Regions from separate parts of the Homo sapiens genome. Here all the other regions are linked to region 3. Evidence: fine-mapped expression QTL. A gene starts in region 3. Each other region holds a variant in brackets. All regions are shown on one strand. Distances are from middle to middle. Region 1 overlaps ANKRD10 (ankyrin repeat domain 10). Region 2 has its middle 4.2 kb from the start of PRECSIT. Region 3 holds the start of ANKRD10 (ankyrin repeat domain 10).

What was found. PIP is the estimated chance that this variant, and not a neighbour inherited with it, causes the effect.
Region 1: its variant is fine-mapped to the expression of ANKRD10 in whole blood (TOPMed, PIP 0.98).
Region 2: its variant is fine-mapped to the expression of ANKRD10 in whole blood (TOPMed, PIP above 0.99).

The regions. Positions count from the first base shown.
Region 1 is chr13:110,887,955-110,895,954 of GRCh38, forward strand. ANKRD10 (ankyrin repeat domain 10) reads right to left here. Exons shown (of 6, transcript NM_017664.4): 4 at 5,074-5,309. Among named protein-coding and RNA genes, the nearest start is that of PRECSIT, 22 kb to the left of the region's middle. The variant A/AGT (reference allele first, on the strand shown) is at 4,897.
Region 2 is chr13:110,870,516-110,878,515 of GRCh38, forward strand. No RefSeq gene overlaps it. Among named protein-coding and RNA genes, the nearest start is that of PRECSIT, 4.2 kb to the left of the region's middle. RefSeq lists enhancers at 1-93, 2,339-3,216 and a silencer at 4,154-4,373. The variant A/G (reference allele first, on the strand shown) is at 4,467.
Region 3 is chr13:110,911,894-110,919,893 of GRCh38, forward strand. It overlaps ANKRD10 (ankyrin repeat domain 10), which reads right to left and starts at 3,176. Exons shown (of 6, transcript NM_017664.4): 1 at 2,832-3,176. The coding sequence starts at 3,041. RefSeq lists enhancers at 1,788-2,464, 2,188-2,317, 3,816-4,490 and silencers at 2,428-2,797, 3,068-3,727, 3,858-4,017.

The DNA.
Region 1 (8,000 bases), 24 kb before region 3:
CATTACCTGGAACTATTCTTTGTTCTGCTGTAGAGCACATTTTACTCAACTTTTTAAGGTCCTGTTAAAACCAAATTGTTTTTCTATTATGAGGTGACCTTTCGCGGGACCCGCCAGGGCCCAGATTCCAGCAGTGCAGAGGGTTGGGATGACTCCAGGCAGCAGGAAGCAGCAGCGACAAAGGACAGAGAAGGGAACTGAGTGCTCTGGAAAGACCGGGGGGGACTGGGGGTTTGGCTCAAATAATACAAAAGCGGCTTGTGATCAAGTGTGCCAGTCTTCGTTTTGCTTCCCACTGGAGTGTCCACAACTGTGCTGAGGACAACTCAGGCCCATGAGGTTTGCTCAAATGGAGACTTTTAACAGTGGAAAACGCAGACACTGTCTGGACTGGAAGTGTAATTCAGACTGTATTTCAAGACGTCACATCTTCAGGGATCAAGAAAAAACAATCACTCCTTATTTGAACACAATTAGGTAGGTGTGTTCTATCATCCTGGCCACATTTTTATAAACAAATATACTGCAAATTTGAAAACAGTGAGGACGTCAGGAGTTAAAGTGCTATAATATGTAACTAAACTAGAAGGAACTAAATTACAAATTTACTCCTGGGAGGCATTTTATTTCCTCTCAAGTTTCAAGCAATAAACATCTATCATTTAACAAACCAGCTGGTCATATCTGCCCTCCTTTACCAAGTCTTTAACCCTGCTCAACACGAACAGCTAAGGACAAAAGGCAGAGATCCTTTATCCAGGTTAAATCCACTCTGGGAAAGTGTTAAAACTTTCCACCGGTAATTTTACCTTTAAATCATCATGTTGTAGATACTTTTTTCTGTAAGGTGTTTTTATATTCAATACCTTCACAGTATGAATGAGATTCTAAGATCAGTAATATGCCTATGTGATTAAGACCGAGCTGTGAAGTCAGTTTGACACTTGAGATCTGCTGTCACCACAGCCTACTTCTGGGGCAAATGTCCCAATTGTGAAATTGAAGTTATTGGGTCAGTTTTTAAACTCACTGTGTTCCCCTGCTTCTTCCCCACGACTCTAGAGCTCCATCCAAAACAATTATCAATCAGCAAAATCAAGTTTTCACTCATGGAAGGGACTGGCATTCTTTTCTAACCAAGATCATTGAAAAACGACCACAGTTTCCAAGGAGTACATATAAAAATAATTGTATTGGGTTATTCCTGAAGATTAACCAAGAACGCTAGCAAACCTGAACTGAGTTTTATACAGTGGTGCAGCTGGAGTCCTGAAGCCCATGCATCATACCATCAGAGCAAATGATTGATAAAAACAACAACAAAAAAATTAAAGACTGATACTTCCTTGCACCATCTAAAATGAACAAAATCCCACACTGAGGAAAGTATTATCCCAAGATACTTTCCATCAAAACAGACTGCTTAAGTAACTGTGGATTTTATTTCACACTCCAGAGTTCATGTCCACACCTATTATGTCTTACGTTCTGACTAAACTGCATTTGACACAGATGCAAATAATTTTATGAAAGTATGACTTCTTGTAGCATAACTTCCTTCCAAGACAGTTAATATTCAAGCAATACAAAAGGCCAAGTCTTTCTTCTTCACTTAAGATCTTTTACATCAACAGCTTCCAAAAGAAAATTCCTCCAATTTAAAATACTTGAAAGTAGTTTACTAAAAGCAGACACTACTTTTTGTGGGGAAGAATGGTTAACATTCAGACTCAGGATTCCAAAGTGTTTTGGCTTTTTCTTTTTCTTTTTTAAAGGGTGAATTTTACAGGGATCTCCTTAAGAGGTGACTTAGCCAGAAAACTTTCTGGAAGTAATTACTTTTGTAAATATAAATTCCACACTAAAAGCATCAATATTTGTAACTCTTAAATTCTAGGAAAACAGAACGCACTAAGTTTTATTGGTAAGATACAAGTTACGCAGCCAAGATATTATCCCTGGCACCTGTAACTTTTTTTGTTTTTAAAGCCAAACAAAACAAAAAACCCAGCTTAAACTCTTCTAAATATTTTTATATGTGAAGTTACTCAAAGTATTTTATATACATGTGTTAAATGAGGAAAAAAGAATTTATCATTTCTTTTACTCTGGCATGAGAACCAAAAACCTAATAAAATAATTCAGATTAAGCAAAACTTAAAACACACATTTAAACAAAATCAAAACAAGATGCCAGAAATTACAACGAAAACTAAAGCAACATATCTTTAATTCAAAACTAAAAAACTGGTCAGTTAATATGGAAATAATTATATATCTATTGAAACCAAGAACAATTTCATGTAGAACATTCAGGTAATTGGCAGAAAAAAAAATCCTGTTTTAATGACCAAGAATGACTCCCAATACCCGACATCAGCACTCTCAGTATGTAATGGTAAAAGGGGGGCAAAAAATCACCTTTTCCCATAGGGAAACGAGTGGTGGGAGTGCAGGTGAGCTAAAGATGCCCATCTATGCTCACACAGACACAAAAAAATATAAACACACTCTTGTGACGAGTGTGGCAAATCTAAGGACTGTCAACTACATAAAAGACAGAACCATCAGAAGTTCCAGGAAATTAGTAAAGTCATGGTCAGTATACAAATTAGGAAAACCAAGGATGAGCAGCTTTGAAGTAATGTGCATCTTGGCTGAAATATTTCAACTGTGATAATCACAGAAACATCAGTCATGTACTGTGTACCTGCAACAGTGGCTCAACCTGTTAGGTCTACGTATTACCTGCAACACTTAAGCAGAAGTGCCGGCTCCAACCATATTTTTGTCTAAATTAGCACCCTCGGGCTTGGGACCAGGAATGTATAGTTTGGGAAGGCTGCATGGTGAGTTTAATGTGCAAAATGTGAACTTCTAATCACTGGTCAACCAAAACAAATCCTCCTTCTAAAGGAAGAAAATAAAACCCCCAAAGTCAGCAGGACTCTTTAAACCAAATTTATGTAGTTAACGAGGATTAGGAAACAAGGAATCCTCAGAAATGCTTTTCAGGGTAATTAAGCAATGTGGTATTGGCCAATTCAACTGACCTTAGAAACTCTGAGACTAGTTTTACGAACTCTTCTAGGTGCATTTTGAGTCCAATTAGCATGTTAAGTGATCTCTTTTTAAAAATACTAAACAGAATTTAAGATTTATCAGCAATAAGAGAAAATGAAGCATAAATCATTTTTCAAGGACATTTAGACTATACAGTGACATACAGGGACAGACATGTACAATTCGTGCATGAGGGCATGAGGCCACTCTACAATACTAACCAGGCTTTAATTAAAGGAAATGACAAAGGATTTTTTTAAAAAGTGGATGCTCTTAAAAAGGCGTTGAAACTACATTAGAAAAAATATATTAAAACATGGTACAAATAAATGACAATGCTGAATACATCACCATTAAAAAAGACCATTTTGAATTTTATGCAGATCTTCATGTCATGCTTATGATTTTAGCATCTTTCCAGAAATGCTTAACTCATAAAAATCTTGAATTTGATAAAACTGTTAAGTTCATACATTACTATAAAAAGTCTTATCACAGGAATTTTTATGGTGACAAGATATAGTTGTGAAGTACATAATACTGACATTTTATCAACTTTATAGGGAAAAAATGTTTCACTTGGACACACTCATTAAATAAGGTAGAAAAGATGATGTTGGTTCATGAAATTTAACCAAAATCTCTAGATTTTTAAGTGATTAACTGATAGTCACTCAGTTTTCCTTATGCTGTAACTTGCACGGTTGATTTTTTTAAACCAACGGGCAAAACTTTGTGCTTATACTCAGCAAATCTGAGCTCATAATCTGCTTCATTACTTCACACTCCCACCTCTCCCCCTAAGTTCACTAAATATGCCTGCCAAGCTATCACATTTACCTTCTTATTAAGACTTTTTTTTTTTTTTTTTTTTAAATAGAGACAAGGTCTCACTATGTTGCCCAGGCTGGTCTCGAACTCCTGAGCTCAAGTAATCCTCCTGCCTCAGCCTCCCAAAGTGCTGGGATTACAGGTATGAGCCATGACAACTGGCCTAAGACATCTTATATATAGATATAGATGATTTTCCTATAGGAAAGGGAGATGTTTTCAACTTCAAGAGTGACTGGCTGACTGCTTATTTGCAAACTCAAACCTACCTTAAAAACAAAAAACAAAAAACCCAAAAAACGGCTAGGCACAGTGGCTCATGCCTGTAATCCCAGCACTTTGGGAGGCCGAGGCAGGTGGCTTACTGGAGGCCAGGAGTTCAAGACCAGCCTGGCCAACATGGTGAAGCCCCTTCTCTACTAAAAATACAAATTAGCCCAGTGTGATAGCATGCACCTGTAATCCCAGCTACTTGGGAGGCTGAGACAGGAGAATTGCTTTAACTTGGGAGCCGGAGGTTGCAGTGAGCCGAGATCACAGCATTGCACTCCAGCCTGGGTGACAGAGCAAAAAAAAAAAAAAAAAAAATGGTGGGAGAATACTTACAACGAAAATAACTTACCTTAGGGACTTAAATCCTCAAGATCAAATTATACACCAGATCTTGCTGTGATAAGTCAACACACATGTGAGGTACAGAGACCACTGAGGTCAAATCATAGTACAGAAATAGTACAGAAAACATTCACCTTCCCGAATGTGAAAATGTTTTACTGCCAGACCATCAGCAATTTTTATAAGCCCAGGAACATTTACAAGAAGCAAATTAAAAAAAAAAAAAAATTCAGGCACAGTGGCAGATTTTCTTTAATAGATATATTTCAAACAGATACAACAAATTAAAAAATCTAATTCATGGCAGGTAAACATGGGTGCTCAAAAAGTTCCACATAGACATTTACACTTGGGCCATCAGTATTTCCCTCACATTCCCTTTTGTTA[A/AGT]GTCCCATCTTCGCAGTGGCAGTACAGGAGAAATCTCCACCGTCACCGCACAATCCACCAGGCGCATTACCACCTGAAGTGAAGGTCTCATCTCGAAGGTGCGCTCAGCCATAAAAAGAAAACATATTACAGAAAGGAAAAATAAGTGTGCTCTTCCCACCCGCAAAGCGGTCTCACCTTCAGTTCTAGCTTTCTTTACTCCAAAGTCTTCTGAGTCTTCCAAGCATCTCTTTCGATTTGTTCCCACACTAATATGATTAGGAAATACATTCTGATGACCCCCATTTAAGATGCCATTGTTATAGAAATGGTTCAGATGACAATTCTGGAGGTTCAAGAGAAACTGGGCACACTCTTGGAAACCCTGGGTTTGTGCAATGTCTGCTGCTGTCAGGCCACTGGCATTTCTCAGGCTGTACAACACAAAAACACTGAATTACACCCCATCCGCGTGCTAACCTGGTCTCTGCTCCTGCTGAACTGACTAGCTATCTGAAGGTGGTATGAAAGAGTAAACAAATTCATAGCAAATCTTCATTAAAGAAGTAGTTAATCAATCTAGCTCTGTAACTAACTTCTCTTATATACATTTGATTTCTAAGCAAGATTTGGGAGATAAACTAAATATGCTAAACTTCTAAAAAAGGCATCTTCCTATTTAACTTCTCAAAATCATGTTTTATGTTAGTCTGAAGAATCTAAATTTACGCTAACTTCAGACTTGAAACTGAATTCTATATTATATGCACTTAATTTTAATACCCATTCCTTTAGCGTGAATAAAATCATAACAAACAACATGTACTGAGATTGTCCATGGCATTCATAACTGTCTTCCTAAAAACAAAGCAATGGCTCACCAACGAGCCAGCCTTCATGCTTACATGTGACACTGTAAGTGGAAGTTTAGAAGGATGTCCTGACATTAAAAAGTAGCCTATCATCAGATTCCAGAGCTGAACAGCTGTGTTTTTCTGTCAGATTTTGATTGTTTTGGCCTTGCTTGGGAAAACCTGCAGGAGTATTGTATTTTTGGCATTGTAGAGCATTTGAGTAGTTGGTTCCTTTAAAAAGGCTTTGAATACTGTCCTAAAAACTCATCCCTACCACTCACAAGAACCAAAGTTTTACCTGGCTAATAGTACTAAAAAGGAAAGGTCTGAGACCTCTACAGTAGCTAAAACTCAGATTCAAGTAGGAAGTGATGGCAGAGTAAGTGAAAGAGCTGAATAAAATAGAGTAAGTTGAACTTGTAAACCTTTAGACACTGAATTAAAACTGAGGGATCAAAAGTAACTCCATGTTGAAGTTCCCCTGGAAGACAAGAATGTACACTGCTCTGTGAAATAAACCTGTAAAAAAGCAGACATCCTGTTAGCTGCAGGTTGATAAACAAACGGGAGAAGTACTTAACAGCAAAGACAGCTTCCATACCTGTTCAGCAAGCTACACTACATCCACAGCAAAAGCATGATGAAATCAAGGCCTTGTGCTGTGTCACTCAAACAACCACTCCAGAACCCTGATGCCTTTCTTGGGGTTACTGTTAATGCAAAAAAAAAAAAAAAAAAAAAAAACCCCGCATTTGAGAGTGAAAACTACAGAATTAGGGACAAATAATATTTTCTTATTTATAAGGACTGACAATAGCCTTGTATTCGTTATTTGCAGACATCATAGAGCTCTGACCTTGGAAATGAGAAGTGTGCATGGACACTAGCTAAGCGTCTCTACTTTTTAAAGCATAAGATAAATGCATTACACCTTTTGAAAAAAGACCCAAATCCTATCTGATCAGAGATAAAAGAGAATTGAGAATCTCAGAAACCAACAAAATTCTTAAAAATATAAGGCGGCTATGTGCAGGACTATTACAGACTAAAGTCACTATTTTTATTAGCCTTATTAAGACTGCATGGCTATGAATGGCCATGAGTATTTTCTAGTATTGCATAATATTTTTATTTTGATATATGAATTAAATGAAAAGGAAGCACCAAAGTTTGGGCAGATTGTATTACATTAATTATACTTTGTACAAAATCAGATCACCTTGTTATTGAAATAGAAAATATACTAATATTACGTGACAGCTTCATCATATAGCTGGACTTTTTTTTAATGGTATATTTCACTTTCAAAAGATATCAGAAGTGCAGATGACCTGGGAGGGTCTATTCTGTCAAGAATGTGAACAGAAAAATAAGTTGCCACATGAAAATTCAAAAACTCTTCAAGGAGAACATAAGTTTACAAACTGATTATTTCTATAGATAAGCATAGACTTGCTCTCCAAAATCAAGAAACAGAGAAATGAGAAGCTACCACTTAGTATTAGGACAAATAAAAATATGAAATAAAGCCCACAGTAAAGATTACTCTTTAGTGGACCAGAGAATAAAAAAGAGCAAACAGATTTTTGAAATGGCACTTAGAATCATAAATACCATGCTGGGCACGGTGGCTCACGCCTGTAATCCCAGCACTTTGGGAGGCCAAAGCGGGTGGATCACCTGAGGTCAGGAGCTTTGAGACCAGCTTGGCTTACATGATGAAACCCTGGCTCTACTAAAAATACAAAAAATTAGCGGAGTGTGGTGGTGGCACATGCCTATAGTCCCTGCTACTTGGGAGGCTGAGGCAGGAGAATCGCTTGAACCTGGGAGGCAGAGGCTGCAGTGAGCCGAGATCACACCACTGCACTCCAGCCTGGGCAACAGAGCAAGATTCTATCTCTAAATAAATAAATAAATACCAATTCGCTGAGGGAAGTTTAGATGCTCAAAGGGCATGCCAACATTCTGAAATTGTTAAAAGAACATCCAAAGCACATTCGATTCCTTTATTCCTTATTCAGAAGCTGAAGACTACACTGAATTTGGGTTAGAACAGCAAGTTTACTGATCTTCCAAAGAAATATAACCTTATAGAAAAATAATCAACAAAATAGTGCCAACATATGGAGATTCCTGGAGACTGAAGTTTCAGAGTGTCAGCCTACACATAGGTAGCACTGGTAAGCTCTCCCACTTCACTTTTTCCCCTGCCAAAGGTAGTTAAATACGTGCTTGTCCTCTACTTAGACCAACCAAATTTCCATGTGG
Region 2 (8,000 bases), 41 kb before region 3:
GGCGGAGCATGCCAATGCCGTTCCTTACTGGTGTGTATATTACTGTTTTTGTCCTTTTCATGCAGCCTGCGGAGTGTACCTCTATAGCTGTCATTTCACTCCTGTGTTTTCTCGGCCTTGGGCGAGGATCCCATGCTGCTGGTAATGAAAGCTGCCTGTTCCCTCGGTTGTTTTCACAGTCCCTCCTTTCTCTTCCAGAGAGAGGTTTTGTTTTGTTTTGTTTTGTTTGAGACAGGATCTCACTCTGTCACCTAGGCTGGAGTGCAGTGGCATGATCTTGGCTCCCTGCAACCCTGCCTCCCAGGCTCCCATCCTCCCTGCAACCCATCGTCCCACCTGTGAAGGGAAAATAAATCTTGGGCCCCCAAACTCAAGCCAAAGGGAAAAGTCAAGCTGGGAACTGGGTCATGCAAACCTGCCTCCCCTTTTGGTCCCTAAATAAGATGCTGCAAGATGAAAAACTGCACACCTCCCCTATATTTTGTCCACAAGGAAATTCCTAGTGAGCTCCGCAATCTTTACTGTAAGGTGTTTCTGTTAAGATTTCACCACAGCAATGCAAATCGATAGCTCATCTTTACAGGTGCAGTCAACCCCTGCCCGCCAGACACAAATGCAAACCTGATTGTTCCCCTGCCCCCTTTGTCTAAGTCATCTTGTGTAAAAATAATGCAGATTCAATGAGCCAAACGCATGACTATTTTTCTCTACCCGCCTCTTAGATGAAAATTGTGTACTTGTCATTATCTCACCCTTTCCCCTTTAAATTTGGAGCCCTCAAAATCATCTTCGGAGAAAGGTACAGACTGTCTCCCGAGTGTTCGTCCTTAACTTTGGCGAGTAAACCTCCTAAAATGATTGAGACTTGTCTTGTCATTTTTCTCAATTGATACACCTCAGTCTCCCAAGTAGCTGGGACTACAGGCATGCGCCACCAAGCCCAGCTAATTTTTGTATTTTTTGTAGAGACAGGGTCTCACGTTGTTGCCCAGGCTGGTCTTGAACCCCTGAGCTCAAACAACCTGCCCGCCCCGGCCTCCCAAAGTGCTGGGATTACAGGCGTGAGCCACTACGCCTAGCCAAGAGAATTTTAAAACCATTGAGGAAATAGTGCCATTGTTGTGAATCAGAGACTTGATGTGCTATTTCATGTAGTGGTTCCTGTCGTTTTGCTTGCAAAATTGGCTTCAATTATCTTGAATTATATGAACTGTCAGAAAAGCCCTGCGGCAGATGATGGTAACGAAAAGACATCCTTTAGCAGACAGGGAATAGGACTGATTCACTGATGCATCTGAGTTGCAATTTTTTTAGCTGCTTCTAAAAATCTTGTAATTAAATTCACTGGTGAGAGCACAGTAGCCTTCATAAATGGGAAAACAGAAACATCGAAGTTGTTCTCAAACCATCCTGGAATCTTAAAGTTCAGGGGGCACCTGGCAGAGGGGAGCCACAGAAAGACGGCAGGGAAGGGAGGGTTAAGGCGAGGCCGGGATAAGCCAAGCAGGGCTGTTCTGGTTTATCTTTCTTACTTTGTTCTTAAGAAAACTTGCTGAATGTAGTTGGCTTCAGATCTTCCTGTTTTAAAAAAAACGCAGTAAGATGAAAAACCTGATGTGTCCTCTGCCCTTCCCCGTCCCTCCCGCCTCTCCCTGCGGGGGGTGAGCACTCCTCAGAGTGCCTGGTGGAGAGGCCCCTGCCCTCCCCTGCACGGAGCTGGGGTGGCCTTAGGCCAACAACCATCAAAGAACTCAGGCCCTTAGTTCAGCGACCCGGGGGGAACTGGGTCCAGTCACCAGCCATGTGCGTGAGCTTGGATGCAGAGGCTCCAGGGGAGCTTTCAGATGAGACTGCAGCCCTGGCTGACACTGCACTGTGATCTCCTGAGAACGTGAGCCCAAGGAAGGGGCCCCTCCCCGGGTGGGACGTCCTGCCTCACAGCTCAACGCTCTGCTGCTGCTGTCAGTGCTGTGTTTTGAGGGGGATGCCCAGTTCTGCACTGACCAGCTCTAACCCTGGGGACACTGCAGCCCTGGTCATGGCCTGGGGACCCCTTCAAGGTGACCTTCCAGCACAGGTACTGGGCGAGTACCCACCCCTCAGCCTCTGCCAGACTTTGCCCAAGAGGCACATCCCTCTTTGCTGCACTGTGGACCTGCCTGCCCAGGTACTGGGGCACTTGGTCATCTGGTGGCTGTGACCATTACTGGGATGAGGCCTGAACTCCAGGTGGAGACCCCTTTCCCAAGCCTGCACTTCCCGCAGCCCCTCCCTGAGCCCTGGGACCTCCCAGAGTCCTCTTGACCTGTGTGGCTCTGCTTGCACAGGTTAGAAACTTCTAGTTCAGCTTCCCTGGCTGAGCCCTGCCGGTTTTTCTGCTGAATGCCCAGAGAATTGGGGGACCCATGGCCCCCCGCCCCGCCTGGCCACGGGGCTCGACAACACAGCAGCTGTAGGGCTTTTCACCTGGCCCTCACCTGTGGGGCCTCCGCCTCGTCCTCAGCTCTCCCTGCGGATTGACCACAAAGTGGTCACTCAGAGTCCCCTCGGGGATGGTTTCAGAGCTTCACCGGCCTCCCTTCCCCACCCTGCAAACCTTCAAAGCCCGAGCCCACGCCTCGCACGTGCTATTCCCAACAGAGAAAAATGTGACCCCATCCACGTCCTGCCCCAGACACCCAGGAGCTCCAGTCCTCTCCCCTTTCCGCGGACTGGAAGCTTCTCCAGGGCTTGAGATGTCCACCTTCCCAGCGATTCCTGCCCGGGAGACTCCGATTCCGACCCCATTCTGTCCACATGTCCCCTTTCCAGCCCCATCTCCCCCTGCCCATTTCCTGAGACCTCTCTAAGGACCCTAGGCTCCTGAGCGGACCCCAGCAGGGCCCCTGAGCTCCATGATTCTGCACTGCCTGGGCCTTCCCGCCAGAGCCGACCCTGGCCCCCAACAGGAGGCCGAGCTGCCCTCAGGGGCCTCTTCACGGTGGGCAGGCGCCCCCGACCCCGGCCTCTCCTCCCCAGTGGCCTCTCCGCCCCTCCCCTCCCCCATGGCCTCTCCTACGCTCCCTCCGCCCTCTCCCATGGCCTCTGATCCTCCTCCCTCCCCCCTCGCCAAGCGCCTGCTCTTCCATCCATTCTCCACATCGCACATCACACACAAGACATTCACACACATGCATATATTCACACCCACACAAGTCACACATATATTCACACACACACGTCACACGACATTCACACACATGCATACATTCACACACATCCACACCCACACAAGTCACACACACATAACATTCACACACGCACATTCATCCACACATGTACAAGTGACACATTCACACACCTGCATTCACACACATCCAGATACACAAGTCACATTCACACACATGCCCACACCTCGACACAACACCCACATGCAACATTCACACACATCCACACGTGCACAATAGCCACACACGTTCACACATGCACACATATAACATGTTTCACATACACTACCACCCATGCACATCAGCCACACATATAAAACAGTCACACCTGCACACACACAGTCACAAACGTCACACACATATAGCATTCACACATGCACAGCAGCCACATTTACACACATCCACATGCATCACACATTCATACACATCTGCACACACGTCACACAAATCAACATTCATACGTGCGCACACATCATACACATCCACACACATCACGTACATTCACACATAAACATTCACACATTCACACACACCAGATTACCACTCACATCCAATACTCAACGCTTCCCTTCACATTCTCACACATTTGCACACTCACACATTGCCAACGACACACTTCCCTCCACATTCCCCCTACATTCCCACACTGACACGCTCTCACACACTCCCAGTCCTCGCACACATTTGCACACTCACATCCATACATGGACACACATCCTCATGCTCGCTCACTCACATGCATTTGCAAACACTGATACACATCCTCACACGCACACTCGCACACTCAGGGTCTCCCTGGCTGCAGCTGTGCCCGGGCTCACTGTTACCGTTGCTCAGTGCAGACTCTTGGGGTGGTGTCCACCTCCAGCCCCCAGCTCCAGCCGTGCCCTGCCGCAGCCCCCGCTACCCTCCCACCGCCCCGGGACCCCTCACCCGCCCCGGCCCATCCCAACCACGGCCTCGCCCCAACCTTGGCTGCGGTTCCCCAAGCAGAGCCGCGCCAGAACCGCCCGGCTCACCCCCCTCTCCCCGCCCCTGCGCCTCTCTCCCGGTTCCCGCCCTCCTGATGGTTCGTCCCTGCACCCGCGCCGGCGCCCCGCCCCCGGTTCCCGCCCTCCCGAGGGCTCCTCCCTTCCACCCGCTGCCTGTTTCTTGGCTCCCCCTTTCCGGGAAACTCTTCAATGTTTCCCATGTTCTGTCTCCAAATTATTCTCCCGTTTTCTTCTCCTTAATAAAACCCCGAAAATCCAACCTATGGAA[A/G]AGTCAAAAAGGGTAATTCAATGAATACCCAGTCTACATTTTCCAGTATTTATCACTAGTTGCTTAGATCTCATCATTCAAAACATTCCAGCAGTTCTCTCACTGTGGCCTGCAGAACCCCAGGGTCCCCAGGACCCCATTTCAGGGGGTCCCCAAAATCAAAACGGTCTCATTACCGAGATGTGATTTGCCTTTTTCAGTGTTGACTTCGGCACTGAGGGTTCAAAAGAAATGGTGGGTAAAGCTACTAGCACCTTAGCAAAAACTGCCCCGGCCTGATCACCTTCATATTCTTCACTGCCGTGCAGTCAAAAAAAAGAAAAAAACCCAATTTCACTTAAGAATGCCCTCAATGCTGTAAACATGAGTAAATTTTGACAGCACACGTTCTCTGTGATGTAAAGGGAAGTGTGCATGAAGGATTTGTTGTGTACAGCTGTCTCCAGGAAAAGCACGGCTCTGGCTGATTGTGCGATAAGTGTATCCAGTGACTTTTTCAGAAACGTCATTTTCATTTGAAATAATGATTGACAAGCTATGTGATTAAAAAAAAAATAACCAGGTTGTAATGCAGTGGCTCAAGCCTGTAATCCCCGCACTTTAGGAGGCCAAAGTGGGCGGATTGCTTGAGGTCAGGAGTTTGAGACAACCTGGGTAAAATAGTGAGACCCCATCCCCCCAAAAAAAAAAAAAATTGCCGGGCATGGTGGTGCACGACTGGAGTCCCAGCTACCTCCAAGGCTGAGTCAGGAGGATCCCTTGAGCCCAGGAAGTCAAGGCTGTAAGGAGCCAAAATCGCATCACTGCACTCCAGCTTGTGCGACAGAGTGAGACCCCGTCTCAATTTAAAAAAACCAAAAAATTAACCAAGTGAGTCTTCTACTTCAAGGAAAACTGACAGTATTTGTGTCCAATGATAAAATTTGAGTTTTTCAGCAAAAATCAGGATGTTGTAAAACTTGTATCCAGTACCATGAGCTTGACAACTTCCAACTTTTGACTTTCATGAGATTATTGGTGATCAATGTTTTATTTTTTTGAGACAGAGTCTTGCTCTGTTGCCCAGGTTGGAATGCAGTGGCGTGATCTCGGCTCACTGCAACCTCTGCCTCCCAGGTTCAAGCGATTCTCCTGCCTCAGCCTCCCAAGTAGCTGGGATTACAGGTGCGTGCCACCACACCCAGCTATTTTTTTTTTTTTGTATTTTTAGTAGAGATGGGGTTTCACCTTGTTAGCCAGCATGGTCTCTATCTCCTGACCTCATGATCCACCTGCCTCGGCCTCCCAAAGTGCTGGGATTACGGGCGTGAGCCACCGCACCTGGCTGGTTATCAATGTTTTAATATTAATGAAAAGTTTCAACATTTGAAAGACTTGCAGAACTCAATTAAAAAATATTTCCCAAGTAATGCATAAAAAATTATGCATGGGTTAAAGGTCCATTCTAAGTGAAAGATGGACTCTACAGGAACGATACAAGAAGCTCACTGATGTGGATCCTGATTCAACATTGCAACTAGCCTTTAAGAAACTACTGTTACTGAATGGAAGGTCTTGACTGCGAGTTGTCCAGGTTCCTGGTGCAGCTGAATAAAGAATGGAACCAAACACACAAAGCAACAAAAGAAGTAAACAACGAAAGAAGCAAAAAAAGCGCAGATTTATTGTAGCAAAAGTACCCTCCAGAGTGGGAGCCAACTTGAGCCAGGGTCAAGAGTGCCCCCTCTAGGGTTTTTACTAAGCTAAAAGAATTTGGTAACACCCCTAGGTGACCTTTAGAGGCCTCCAATTGGCTGCACCCTATGAAAGATTAGCCTGCAACCAATCAGAGGCTGAAGTGGAGACTGTCTTGTTATCACAGGTAGGAGGCTGTGGTCTGAGTGCTGCCTAATCTTGCCTAGAACTGGCTGTACCTGCTGTTCTTTTGCTTATGCCTTAGCCCTTGGTTACCCTAACTTCCTATTCTCCTGCCCCACGACCACTACAGAGTTTGGGCATGGTATCAAGTACTCACAATTAACTGCAAAGACGATTCAAATATCCCTTTTTCCAATTACCTATCTGTGTAAGGCCAGATTTTCTCCACATACTTCAACCAAAAATTTATTTAGGTATTCTATCTCTGAGTAATGTTTTATAGTTTTCAGTGTAGAGGTCTTGAACATCTTTTGTTAAGATATTTTCATAGGTATGCCATGGTTTGGGTGTCACTGTAAATGGGCTTTATTTCATTTTCCAATTGTTTCTACTAGTACAAGAGAATGCATGCATGGGAAAGTATCTGCAGGCCAAAAAGGCTAAGACTCAGTGAGCTATTCTTGCAGTCAGTATAAACGTCAATTCTGGTGGACACAGAAATACCTAAGCTTATTCTCAATGTTAAAATGACAACCATATTTTTTAATAGAGCATTTTTTCTTCAAGTCCTGAAAAAAAAAACCCCAAAAAACTTGTCTCAAATAAATACAAAATACACAGACTAACGCACCTTCACATACCCACCACCCAGATTTAACATCGGCCTGCACCAGTTGTGTTTGATCCTTGTCTCCACTCACCAGGGATCATGGGCTCCACTCATATTTTTATGGTTTGAAGCAAATTCCAGGCATGAAAGCAATTCCATCATCACCATTTCCTTATGTATCACTAAATAAGAACTGAATATACTGGTGTAAATGACTCTAAACTAGAATATGACAAACTACTTCAATCATCCACTCAAGTGTGGATGTTGCCCTACTCTAGGTTCTATGCAACATTTTTGTTCCTAAGCAGTCATCTTCTGTCCAAAAATTCAAGACTAATCAAAAGTATGTTTACTGTGTTTTCAGAGATTCACAACGTTTTTCAGCAAATAATTAAGTCACTATAGAACATCTGGAATACCTTAGAAAACAGTCCAAACGGGATGGCATCAAGTTTCATCTCTCTTAAAAACTCAGTAGTGTGGGTGGCTTCTTGGATCAGTCTGAGGCCAAATCTCAGTTCTAAGCTTGATTACTAGTGTCTGCCATAGGATGGGAGGCGGTGGCCTGGACAGCGCCATGCATTCTCTTCCTGTTCTCACTGTAATTTTTGCAAAACTTCCAAAGCATAATGCTCCCTCATTGTGGTCTATTAAGTTTTTACAAGAATATGCATGATGCAGTGAATGTTTTAAATTGCATATGTAGGCATGCCAGAATGGCTATATTGGTGCTATTTATAACTGTAATTCATATTCCTAAAAGGCTTACATTAATTAACAGTTGCTAAAACCAAAGAAGTTTAGAACATTATGGTTGCTGTCTTTTATGAAAATAAGCACCCAGGCACAATACTGAACTGACATGCAATTCATCCTTCCTCCACAGAGGTTCAGTACCAACGGTGCCCATAAAACTAGAGTAGAAACTCAAAAATAGAAAAAACACCGTATGAAGAGTGTCAGAAGAGTCAAGTAAAATCTTATAAGCAAAATGAAACAATAGTAAACTTCTCTTCCCTTCCCATTCCTTCCACAGATATCCACACCCCGCCGGCCCCCAAGCC
Region 3 (8,000 bases):
CAGCACTGAATACTCATTGAATAATCAATAGAGGCCCCATTCTCCACATTTTTTTACTCTTTTCAAAACCCTATGGGGGAAAAAAGCCTACAGCATAACTGAGCAATGCACCTAGTGGGTGACTAACATGGCAAGTTAAGACTTTGTGGCCAAGCACCAATACCATGATAGCCTCTGGCTAAAATAATTTAGCGCATTCAACAAATTTACCAAGTGCCTACCATGTGCCAAGCAACTGTTCAACCCACGTTCTCTGATCCTGGACTGCTCATTTTCCCTCACTCCAATCACAATGCAGTTAGGGAACAAGCTATGCCTGACTGCAAGCAATTCTCTTCAAGAGGAGAGACCTCACCTGAAGACAAAACACCTGACACTACCATCTCAACTCAAGGTTTCTTTTTCCATTTCTCTTAGCACTTTCAGGCTTTCAGTAAACACTCCTGTGAGATGAAGAGTACACAGATTCAAAACACCCTCTTCAACCAACTTGGACCTGGGAGTAAAGGCTGATGTCTATTTATTGCCTTTATTAATTCACTGGGTGAAAATGAAAGTATTAATTAGCGATAAGATGAACAGGTTGCAAATCCAATAAAAATAAAACGGATGAAAATCACTTGGCGTACCAAAAATCAGCTATTCAGGGCTCGCTGGCTTTAAACCTGTTACCCTTGGGTTCAATTTAGAAACTTGGATTTGGAATTCTGGAAAGATACTGTTCAATATGGTATAAAAGCTACAACAGAGATTTTAAACAACTCGTTTAGTCCTCTGGCAACAAACGAGTCTTACCAACGGTTAGGGGATCTTGTGCACCACTAGCACATTTCTAAGAACACGAGCCTGAAACCTGTGTAAGAGGGCAGCCGTTAGCAGGGCTGGGGAGAAAGCCTGGACTTCGCAAGCGGTAGCCCTGAGTCCTGGCCTGATTTCTGTCCTAACGGCTTCTTCTCAGAAGGGAATGTTTGGACACTGGACAGGGGCTTTCTAAGGCCCCTTCCGTATCTAAGACCAAAGAGCCCTATGATTCAGACAGCTGGAAACAATGAAGTAACTGCTTCTTGTTACAACATTTGATGACCAAGGTAAAGCTACTACTCAAAGTCCCATGGAAGTAGACTTTTGAAAAGTGATTTCAGTCGGTGTTTTTTAAAAAACTGTGATAAAATACACATTAAAAATTACCATTTTAAAGTAACTATTTTAATCCCCAGAGACAAGTGGAGGCACCACTGGATTAAATTTTCTAAGTGACCATCTGTAATGAGGCTTTAAGCATTCTACAGATCGTTGTTCACTGACTATCACCCAGTATTGTGTCGTTCTCAACCAGGGTAGAAAGGACAGAATCCTAAAGTTTAGTGTAAAAATAAACCACAGCAAGAGACACTCTGGAGGGAGGAAATCCTCAGATTACTGACTGCCTCGGGAAATCTATTTAAGGCTGCACGCAGAAGCGCAGGGAGGAGGCTTTATTACTTTTGTTTGTTAAGAAACTCATTTCCCCTGGGCACCTGTTTTCTCCAGCAGGTACTACGGTTGCACAACTTCAGAGACAGTGCCACAGGAACCTAACAGCCCTTGAGGACTGATTAACTTGCTTGTCCCACCCCGATCGTCAAAACTCCTTTTCATTTCTTTTATTGAAAGAAAAGTGACTTTTCCACTTTAAAAGAATCAGAAACTGCTTTCCAAAAGACACAGCTGCTTTGTGAATGTAGCACCAGGGGCAGCAAGGTAAACCGCAACTTCATCAGCTGGTAACGACATTACCAGGGCCAGGCCTTCTTAAAGTAACTTATTTCACATTACCTCTCACATATTTCTGCAAAACCATTTAACCCCATCTCATCACTTACGAGAAAAACACTATACACATCCCTGAATTTCAGTGAATTAAGAAATATTAATTAAAACCAGTCACTTCTGAAATGCACGGTGAAATCTTATTTAAGATTTCTGAGAGCAAGTACCCCAACGACTTCACAGATGAGGAAACGGTAGCTATCCAACCTTTTAAAACCTTAAAGCAGCACTGTGTTCCCCCAGAATTTTCAGTTTAAGAAAAAAGAGGGGAACGTAAAGCCTCCACGGGAAGAGAATTCTGCTTAATTTAACCACTTCTGCAGTAATTTAGATCCAAGATAAACACAGCCGTCACTAATTTTGCTGAAGCGGGGCCAGCTACAAGCCTTAAAGCAAACCCAGAAGCTGGAGAGCCGGCCTCCATCCCACACAGCTGCCGGGGCCTTCCAGTCCCGCCGGGGCGCTTGCTCCTCGGCTGAGCTCGTCCGCAGCGCGGCCCTCGGCTACTGGCGAGGCTGTGCGGAACCAGAAGGTCGACCGCGCCCGGGCATTCCCCGCGCGCCTCTGACCCCAGCTCGGCTCCCCGGAAGCCGCCTGGGCGACTTCGCGGCCTAATACCCGGCTCTGCGAAATCGCTCGCGCCTCCGGCCCGGCCTGGAGGGCCCCGCACCATCCGCGCGCGCGCGCGCTCGCACAGGATCCGGCCAACAGGCGCCGGGACCCTTGGAGCCCGCCTTGTTAGAAACTTGCTACGCGCGCCGCCGCACATGCGCCCTAGGCCCCTCCGGACGCAGGCGCCACCGACCTCGCTTCCGCCCCGCGCCCCCCGGCTGCCCCGCCGCGACTCCGGGCCGCGAGCGCTGCCGCACAGGCGCCCTAGGCCCCTCGGGGCACAGGCGCCGTCGATCCCGCTTCCGCCCCGCGATCCCGGCACGCCCCACGTCCCCCGCACCTCAGACCCGCTTTCCCCGACTCCCACTGGACAGCCGGGGAAAATGGCGCCTTAAAGCGTTCGCACCCACCTTGCCGAAATGCGCGGCCCAGTGCACGGGCGTCCAGCCATAGAAGGAGTCCTCAGAGGCCAGGTGGGCGTGGGGTGTCTGCTGCAGCAGCGAGCAGAGCGTGGCCAGGTCCCCGTCGCGGCAGGCGCGGTGCAGCGGGAAACGGAGCGAGAGCAGCTCCTCGCTGGAGAAGCCCGCCTCTACGCCCGCGCCCGCTCCCGCCGCCGACATGGTCCGTCACCGGAGAGCGCGGGGCTCGCTGGCCTAGAGGACGCGTCGGGGAGGACTCGAGAAGCCGCCGCCGCAGCACAAAGGAACGAGACTAGCGCCGCGGTCGCGTCCCACAGGCTGCCGAGCGGAGCGCGCACAGAGGGGGCGGGGCGGGGCCTGGAGCGGCCGGGCTGGGGGCGGGGCCTGGCCCAGAGGACGCCTTGTGCAGCCGGGCAGGGGTCGGGGCCTGGAGCCGCGGACCTCTGGAGCCGCCGGGCAGGGGGCGGGGCTTGAGCCGGAGGCCGCCTGGAGCAGCCGGGCGGAGGGCGGGGCTTGGAGCTGCGGACGCCTGGAGCGGCCGGTAGGTGGCGGGGTCTAGCCTAGAGGATGCCTGGAGCAGCCGGGTAGGGAGCGGAGCCTGGACCAGAGGACGCCAGCAGCAGCCGATTAGGAGGCGGGGCATGGGGCTGTCGACGTCTGGAGCAGCCGGGCATTGGGCTTGGGCTAGAGGACGCCTGGGGCGGTGGGCGCCTGGAGTAGCCAGGCAGAGGGCGGGGCCTGGCTTGGGTCCACGCCTGGGGCGGCCGGGGGCGGGGCCTGGCTGGAATTGACGCGTGGAGCTCCGGTGGAGGGGGCGGGGCCTGGCTGGGCCGCTGCCTACAGCGGCTTCCGGGGCTTGGAGGTCACGGGGCTCGGAGGTCACGGGGCTCGGAGGTCACGGGGCTGGCTGTGTGGGGGGCTCAGGGGCGTAGAGTGGCCAAGCAGCGGTCTGAGCGGGTCCCGGGGCCTCCGGCGCGGTGGGTCTCGGCTGCGCCCCGGGTGCGGACCATGATGTTTCCAGCCTGGGAGCCGGTCCGGGCGGGGAATCCCGGCTGCCGGGGGCGCGGGTTGAGGCTCTGCGGGCCCGCGCCCAGAGCGGGTGGGAGTCACGGGTCTCCCGGAGGCCCAGTAGCGCGCGGTGAAGTTGTCCAGTAAAAATTTATGGAGCGCCTACGGGGAGCAGGGATTCTCGTTAAAATCTGGGAATCAGCAAGCCCTAGTTCCTTACAGAGCAGGACAGATTCCTCGGTTTTGTCCGAGGGACGCCTTCTTCGGAACCGAGTGCGGTGGGCTAGGACTATACGTTTGCAAGTTTAAGAGATAAGCGAGAAGACCAGACAGAGCAAACAATAAAAGGCTTTTTGTTGAGAACTGTATAAATGTAAGGGAGTACCAAATCCCCTATTTTGAATGACAGTATCACGGACTTTATTACATATGTAATTTTATTCTGATTATGAAAGCATCAGTAATTTCACTATTGAGGAATAACCACAATGTTTATGAATATTTCCTTTGCTTCTAAATATGCGGTCTTTTTAAATCATGTATTTTATTTCATTTGTATATATAGTTTTTCGCTGTGTAAACTTCCTTTTTGCAAAATTCTACGTCACAAATTGAACAAGGCAATTAGATGTCTAGGGAAGTACTGATGCACGAGAAAGCATATTGCAGCATTGGTTAATAAAACGAAAAAATAGAAACCTAAGATTTAACAAAGGGAAGTTGTTAACTAGTGGTGTAAACACTCAACACAGACATGTCTTCATACAGCAAACATTTGTTGAGTACAATGCTGAATGAAACACATTGAGAAACACTCTATAGTGGGGAAGTAGCAAATATTTCAATTCAGTGAGCAATTGCTAATGAATGGAAAATATGACACATAGAATCTATCTTCTCCCAGGGAGTTTGTAATCTGTTAGTGAAGCAGGAAAGAATAATCAAGCAATACTTTTTTGTTTGGACCAAAAGGGTGAGAATAGACTATAAACTCATTTCAGGTTTTGTTTACTCTAGAACGTAATCATTTTTCTTCTCACATGCCATGTTGATTTTAATCTAATCTCTTTAAAATATATCCCCCTGATTTCCATCTTTCTTAGGAGAGAGGTGTCCCATTTTGCGAAAGGACGTGAGTGTATCTTGTCCTCCATGTAATGAAAGGGAGGGATTACTTGCTAGGCTGCATTCTGGGAATGGTGAAACAGAGATGGTGGTAAGTCAAGGAATTTGTCCAAGGGCAAACTGCATGCCTGTGGCAGAGCTTAGAATAATATCCAGACCTAGGTTCCAACCCACTGTTAGATTTTTTTTAACTTTGGAATTTATTTTGCATAGAGTATTAAGGGCTAGGAAGATAAAATAGGTTATAGTGATAGGGTACTTCGTGTACGTCTTTCCTCACTTCAGATGACTGGGTTTTTTAAAGGATTATTTAGACTATATACATATTTATTTAGCTGTACAGGAGTAGACTGACATATATACGTGGTGATGGATCCCCAAGACAGATCCTGTAACTGTGGCAGGAGGATTGTGGATAGGATGGTGTCTACTGACTATTCCCAATGCCAGTGATCTAATTGGTTGGTCACCCAGATTTTGCTCAACTCTGATAATTGTCAGATGCATTCCAACTAGAACTACTCCATCTTAAATGGGGCTGGGTAAGATGAGGCTGAGACCTATTGGGCTGCATTCCCAGATAGTTAAGGCATTCTAAGTCACAGGATGAGATAGGAGGTCAGCACAAGATACAGGTCATGAAGACCTTGCTGATAAACAGGTTGCAGTAAAGAAGCCAGCTAAAACCCACCAAAACCAAGATGGTGACGAGAGTGACCTCTGGTCATCCTCACTGCTACACTCCCACCAGCGCCATGACAGTTTATAAATGCCATGGCAACATCAGGAAGTTACCCTATGTGGTCTAAAAATGGTAGACATGAATAATCCACCCCTTGTTTAGCATATAATCAAGAAATAACCATAAAAATGGGCAACCAGCAGCCCTCGGGGCTGCTCTGCCTAAGGAGTAGCCATTGTTTTATTCCTTTACTTTCCTAATAAACTTGCTTTCACTTTACTCTGTGGCCTCACCCTCAATTCTTTCTTGAGTGAGATCCAAGAACCCTGCCTCTCCTGTGGTCTGGATTGGGACCCCTTTCCTGTAACAATCATTACCAATCTCAGATTTCCTTTGAGACTCTCATTTTTTAAAAGCTCCAAAGAGAAGAAGAGTAGATTCATAACATCTTTTTCATCTGATGAAGCAACCATACACAAGCCAACTTAGGCATTTGAAGATACAATCCAAATCCATGAAAGAAAACAGGAAAACTCAAAACTTAACATATTAAGATTGCCTTTAGACTGGAATTTTTTTTTTTTTCAAAAAAGGATTGCATTGTATGAGAAATTGTGGAAGTGGGGTAGGGCTCAGTTGTGTGAATGGCACAGTGATTCAGTGTCCATACGTGTGACAGACATTGATGGGCATCTCTTGAGTGTCGTTATTACACCAGGAGCAGTGCGCCCTGAGGGACGTGGGGTTGGAGAGCAAGGTAGGCCCCAGTTGATGTTCCATATTAAGCATGCCATGCTAAGGAGTGGCTTTTTACTTTCAAAAAGTTTGGGAACCAATGAGGGGTTTTGTTGTGCCATTTAAGGGAGGGAGTGATGACTTGGGATGGAGGGGTGGGGGGACCCGGGTCAGACTTGCAGCTTGGCTATGAGGATGGAGATCAGGGAGCCCACTGTGACAACACCTTCAGGACTCAACGTGGGCCTGCAAGCCTTGCTGTTTTCTCCTCGGCCCCTTCTCCATTCCTATCCACATCCACTACGCTGGCAAATCCATCTTTTGAGAGGGCAAATCTGCTTAAAAATTGATGTAGGAACAGTTTCCAAAACTTGTCATTCAGATACCACCTGCATGTGGATTTTTTTTTTTTTAGACAGGATCTCACTCTTGTCACCCAGGCTGGAGTACAGTGGTACAGTCATGGCTCACTGCACCCTTGACCTCCTGGGCTCAAGGGATCCTCCTGCTTTGGCCTCCGAAAGCCCAAAGCACTGGGATTACAGGTGTGAGCCATGGCTCCTGGCCATATGTGGACTTTTATATCTACATAGGATTGATATTTTTTTCTTAAAACTGGTTCACTTTTTTAAACTTAGCCACTTCATTCACATCCTCTCATTAATAAACCATTAGTGAGTTTGTGGTGCTGGTTACATTCTCTCCCTACCCATTTAAACAAATAGATATCAAAATAGAGTTTGATCTATAAACCTTCCAAATTGGCTCCTGCCATTCGAGGTTTTCAGACCACACCTGGGAAAATGCTCCCAGCAAGCAAAGTCCAAGATCAGACCCTTGGCTGGGTAATGTCCTTACAGCCAGGGCCGACTGCCTGTCTTTGGACTTCTTGTTATGTCACTGCCCAGGGCTGTCCAGAGCATGTCCTTGACACTGGGGCTACCTCTGCCTTGAAGGCTGCTCCCTGCCCTGTCCCAGAGTCCACTCCTTCTGATCTGGGTTGAATTGTGTCCCCCCCAAATTCATGTGAAGTCCTAACCCCCAGAACTAAGAATGTGGCCTTATTTGGAAATAGGGTCATTGCAGATATAACTAGTTGACATGAGGTCACACTGAAGTAGGGTGGGCCCCCAATCCCATATAACTGGTGTCCTTATAAAAAGGCGACATTTGTCATGCCTGTAATCCCAGCACTTTGGGAGGCCGAGGTGGGCATATCACCTGAGGTCGCGAGTTTGAGACCAGCCTGACCAGCATGGAGAAACCCCGTCTCTACTGAAAAAAAAAAAAAAATACAAAATTAGCCTGGTGTGCTGGCACATGCCTGTAATCCCAGGTACTCGGAAGGCTGGGGCAGGAGAATTGTTTGAACCCGGGAGGCAGAGGTTGCGGTGAGCTGAGATCGCACCACTGCACTCCAGCCTGGGCCACAAGAACAAAACTCTGTCTCAAAAAAAATAAAAAATAAAAATAAAGGGACAGTTGAACACAGACACAGGGGAAGACGACCACGTGAAGATGGAGGCAGAGATGGGGGTGATGCTTCTACAAGCCAAGGAATCCCAAAGACGACGGCAAATCACGAGAAGCCATGGAGAGGCCTGGAGCAG